Regions from separate parts of the Homo sapiens genome. Here region 2 is linked to region 1. A link means that fine-mapping ties the variant in region 1 to the expression of a gene that starts in the linked region. Tissue or cell type: pancreas. Region 1 holds a variant in brackets; the other region holds the start of a gene. All regions are shown on one strand. Distances are between the middles of the regions.

Region 1 (2,755 bases):
GTCAGGAGATCGAGACCATGCTGGCTAACACAGTGAAACCCCGTCTCTACTAAAAATACGAAAAATTAGCCAGGTGTGGTGGTGGGCGCCTGTAGTCCCAGCTACTCGGGAGGCTGAGGCAGGAGAATGGCATGAACCCGGGAGGCGGAGCTTGCAGTGAGCCGAGATTGCGCCACTGCACTCCAGCCTGGGCGACAGAGCGAGACTCCGTCTCAAAAAATAAATAAATAAATAAATAAAAACATTATTTAATTATTTTATTATTATTATTACTATTTTTGACACAGAGTTTCACTCTGTCGCCCAGGCTGGATTGCAGTGGCGCAATCTCAGCTCCCTACAACCTCTGCCTCCCGGGTTCAAGTGATTCTCCTACCTCAGCCTCCCGAGTAGCTGGGATTACAGGCACCCGCCACCAAACCCAGCTAATTTTTTGTATTTTTAGTAGAGATGGGGTTTCCCCATGTTGGCCAGGCTGGTCTGGAACTCCTGATCTCAGGTGATCCACCTGCCTCAGCCTCCCAAGACACCTCTTCTCTATAAAAAATAAACTAAAAATTAAAAAAGAAACTTAAAAATCACATCCTTTTTTTTTTTTTTTTTTTTTAGAGACATGGTGTCACTACATTGCCGAGGCTGGTCTCGAACTCCCAGCCTCAAGCAGTGTTCCCACCTCAGCCTCCTAATGACTAAGGCTTTTGAGAACAGAAGGCATTCCCCATGTCCCCCCAGGACATTCACCCAGGGCCAACTGCAAAAGGATGAAGGACAGAGAGTTGCAGAAAGACAAACTCTCCTGATTCTTCATGTCTTATTATATTTCTGCAGAGGGTTCTCTTCCAAAGTTTGAAAGGCATGGCTTTAGTTTGTTAAATTGTGAACACTTTCTTTAAAAACAGCTTTGCTGGCCAGGCGTGGTGGTTCACACCTGTAATCCCAACATTTTGGGAGGCCAAGGTGGGTGGATTGCTTGAGCTCAGCAGTTTAAGACCAGCCTGGGCAACATGGTGAGACCCCATCTCTATAAAAAATTAGCCAGGAGTGGTGGCACGTGCCTGTAATCCCAGCTACTTGAGAGACTGAGGTGGGAGGATTGCCCGAGCCTGGGGAGGCTGAGGCTGCAGTGAGCTGTGATCACACCACCACACTCCAGCCTGGGTGGCAGAGTGAGACCATGTCTCAAAAAAAATAAAATTAAATTAAAATAAAAATAGCTGGCCGGGCGTGGCAGCTCACGTCTGTAATTCCAGCACTTTGGGAAGTCAAGGCAGGAGACTGAGGCCAGTGGATCACTTGAGGTCAGGAGTTCGAAACCACCTGGCTAACATGGTGCAACCCCGTCTCTACTAAAATACAAAAATTAGCTGGTCATGGTGGTGCACCCCTGTATTCCCAGCTACTTGGGAGGCTGAGGCATGAGAATCACTTGAACCCAGGAAGTAGAGGTTGCAGTGAGCTGAGATCACACCGCTGCACTCTAGCCTGGGCCACAGAGCGAGACTCCATCTCAATAATAATAATAATAATAAATAATTTTTAAAAACAGCTTTATTGATATATAATTCATGTATTTTACAATCCACCTATTTAAAGTGTACAATTTGATGTTTTTGTTTGTTTGTTTGTTTGTTTTGAGATGGAGTCTCGCTCTGTCGCCCAGGCTGGAGTGCAGTGGCGC[G/A]ATCTCAGCTCATTGCAAGCTCTGCCTCCCAGGTTCACGCCATTCTCCTGCCTCAGCCTCCCGAGTAGCTGGGACTACAGGCGCCCGCCACCACGCCTGGCTAATTTTTTGTATTTTTAGTAGAGATGGGGTTTCACCGTGTTAGCCAGGATGGTCTAGATCTCCTGACCTCGTGATCCGCCCGCCTCGGCCTCCCAAAGTGCTGAGATTACAGGCGTGAGCCACCGCGCCCAGCCAATTTGATGATTTTTTTGTAAATTCACAGAGTTGTACATTGATCACCACGATCCATTTTAGAACATTATTTTAGAACATTTTCACCTTCCCAAAAGAAAACCCACGTCCCCATCAGCAGTCACTTCCCATTCCCCTCCCCCAATCCCTGACAGCCACCAACCTGCTTCCTGTCTCTATGGATTTGCCTGTTCTGGGCATTTCATGTCAGTGGAATCTCACATTCTGTGGCCTTTTGTGTCCGGCTTCTCTCACTTAGGCATCATGTTTTTGGGGTTCACACACACTGCAACATGGATCAGTGCTTCCTTCCTTTTTATGGCTGAATCATGTTCTATGTATGGAAGGAACACATTTTGTGCGTTAATTCATCTGCTGACAGGCATTTGGGTTCTTTCCACCTTTGGCTACTGTGAATCGAGCGGCTGTGGACATTCCTGGCAAGTTGATGTGAGGATGTGTTTCCATTGCTCTGGGTATATGCTGAGAAGTAGAGTTTCTGGGTCACGTGGTAACTATGTTTAACATTTTGAGGAACTGCCAGACTTTCCCAAAGCCGTTGCAACATTGTACATTCTCACTAGTACTGTCTGAGAATTCTGATTTCCCCACATCCTCATCAACACCTGTTACTGTTCATTTTGGGGGTTTATGGGTTTTTAAAATAGCCACCCTCGTGGGTGTGTAGTGGTATCTCACTGTGGTCCTGATTTGCATTTCCGTAATGGCTAATGATTTTGAATATCTTTCTTTTTTTTTTTTTTTTTTTTTTTTTAGACAGACTCTCGCTCTGTCACCCAGGCTGGAGTGCAATGGTGTGATCGTGGCTCACTGCAACCTCCA
Region 2 (2,627 bases), 34 kb after region 1:
GGCCAGAATGGCGGCTCATAGGCCGGAAGCTTTCACGCAGGGAATGAATGCGGGATTGAGAGGGGGTCTCATGCAGGGGTTGCACAGATGGGGTCTCTGAGGGAGAGAATGGACAAATGGGGGACTTGCTTTGGTGAGGGTCTCGGCCCAGCCACGGCAGAGGTGGCCCAGCTCTCCGTCCAGCTGCCTGAGGGCCTGCCGCCGCTGCGCCTCTGTTTCCGCGTGGATAAGGTCCGCCAGCCCCTCCACTTCGGTCAGGTTCAGCTTCCCATTGGCGAACGCCCGTCTGGTGAACTCGCCTGCCTCCGCCGGTCGAAGCCCTGGCACGCTGCCTGCAGGAAGGTCCCAGTCTGACACCCCCTGGTCCCCACCCAGGCCCATTGGGAGGACCAAGCATCTCACCCAACGCTGCAACTCACCCAAGGCCTGCAGGACGCCGCTCACCACTGCCGGGCCTCCATGCACGTGGAACTCCACGCAGTCCTCACCGGTGAAACTCTGGGGACCTAATGTGACAGACAGGTGACAGGAGGACAGCACAGCCAGTGCAAACCCTTGGAAGGGGGAAACTGAGTCATGGGACCTACAGGAGGCTCGGAACCTGGGGACCCTCACCTGGGAACCAGAGCACCAGTGCGCGGTCCAGAGGCTCCCCGGAGCGGGGATCGCTGAGCAGGCGCAGGCTGGCGTGGCGAGCAAGGGGCAGGTCTCGGGGTGCTGTGAGAATTCGGAGGGCGTGGCCGCTGGCGGGGCCGCTGGTCCGGATCACTGCGATGCCGCAGCGGCCTTGGCCAGAGCTTAGCGCGAAGATGGTGGCGCCGGAGCCGGGGGCTGGTGCGCCGCTGCTCCGGCGCGTGCACAATCTGGAACCGGAGGGGAGGCGAATCAGCGCACCTGGGAGGCTCAGCCTCAGTGTCAAGTAGACCGAGGGCTCGATGATCGCGAGATGCTCCAGGTGGGGGGGTTCTGCGGCTGGGGGATGCACAAATTGGATGTTCTGAAGGCCGAAGGGTGACCGGATTAGGGACTGTGAGGCCAGAAGGAGACCCAGATATGGGCTCTGCCGCAAGGGTCATGAACGATTGAGGCACGGAAGAACGCGAATGATTGCTCTGCCGCAGGGAATTGGGCCCCTAAAACCCAGGGAGTGGGTCTGGGGTCCAAGCAGCACCCCAAGCTGTCGCACCCCTTCCCCTGTAGCCCCACCTGCGAGGCCCACGTGCCGCTTGGGCCGCCAGGGTCCAAAGCCCCCGCCACATGGATTTACAACCTGCGACCCGCCTGCCCGACCTGCCTGTGTGGCTTCAAGTCTGGGCAGGGGGCCCCGCCCACTCCGCGGCTTGACTAGTAAAGTGCTCAACTATTCTCGACCACCATTGGGTATCTTAGGATACGTCCTGCCCACCGTCTGAAGATACTCGCTTCCATTGGCTGGTGCAAGGGAGAGCGGGAGCGGGAGGCGGTATGGAGGTAGGTGTAGCGAAATGTTGTTCCCCGGGCAACATGAGACCAAATTTTTAGGGTCCTAGCGCAGCGAGGCTGACAATAGGAATAAGGAATGGAAGAAAGGACAGAGTTTGGCACAGGGCAGTGCAAATTACAGCGAGGGGAGGTTTTGAGTCCCGCATTTTCCATCTGCTCACTCCGCAGCCTTAGGCGTGGCAAGGACCTATGTGCGTTCAGTTTTCCCGTTCAAGAAAGGAGGGACTACACCTCTTTACGTTCAGGTTCAGACCGGAAACTCAGAGCATCTCGGTGACCGGGAGGGACGAGTACTGGAGAACCCACGCCCTGATCCAGGGAAAATCTTGCCCGAACTTCTGGAAAGAGTCCTACTTGCTTTTTCCGGAACTCTCCAGATTCTCTCCCCTCCCCAGCGTTCCCTTCTGCCGTTCCCTCGGCTTCGGATGCCCTTCCTCATTTGACAAACTCGTCTTCAAGGCCTAGCTCCAAGATCCCCTCCTCCAGGAAGTCTTCCTGGAACCCCCAGCACAGCCCTCTCTCCACTGTGGACTTCCTTGGCTCTCTGTCTCTCTGGTCCAGGTCTGCACCTGCAGAGCCAAGTGTCCGGTCAGTCTCTGGCTCCCCGAAAGCCAGAAAGGGGAGCCTCGGAGATTGCTTTCAGGTTAACCCAGGACAGCACTGAAACTCGGAATAAAGCGCTGATGGTGGAATTCCAGGCACTGGCTGGGCGGGGTCTCCGGGAGCGCCTTCGCATGGCGGATTCTCTGGTTCTGGATCAGAGCGGGCGGGCGGCGCACTTGCGTGTTAAGAAAAATCTGTCTGACAGAATAGAGTTCTAATACCCCCTTACCTCGCCCTGCTCAATATTTTTATTTACTTTATTATTTTATTTTATTTTATTTTTGAGACAGGGTCTCACTCTGTCGCCCAGGCTGGAGTGCAGTGGCGCGATCACGGCTCTTGCAACCTCCAACTTTTGGGCTCAAGGGATCCGCCCGCCTCAGCCTCCTGAGTAGCTGGAACCACAGGCGCGAGCCACCATGCCAGTCTAACTTTTCGGTGTTTCTTTTTGTTTGTTGTTTTTGTTTGTTTGTTTTGTTTTCGTTTTTTTGGTGGAGACGGGGATCTCACTACGTTGCCCAAGCTTTTTTTTTTTTTTTTTT

What was found. PIP is the estimated chance that this variant, and not a neighbour inherited with it, causes the effect.
Region 2: GTPBP3 starts here. The variant in region 1 is fine-mapped to the expression of GTPBP3 in pancreas (GTEx, PIP 0.95).

Annotation. Positions count from the first base shown.
Region 1 is chr19:17,369,934-17,372,688 of GRCh38, reverse strand. All of the region lies in intron 1 of PLVAP (plasmalemma vesicle associated protein), which reads left to right. Among named protein-coding and RNA genes, the nearest start is that of PLVAP, 6.0 kb to the left of the region's middle. The variant G/A (reference allele first, on the strand shown) is at 1,679.
Region 2 is chr19:17,336,244-17,338,870 of GRCh38, reverse strand. GTPBP3 (GTP binding protein 3, mitochondrial) reads right to left here and starts at 1,318. Exons shown (of 9, transcript NM_032620.4): 1 at 1,207-1,318; 2 at 616-863; 3 at 420-506; 4 at 130-332. The coding sequence starts at 1,259. RefSeq lists enhancers at 334-1,005, 1,006-1,677, 1,678-2,349.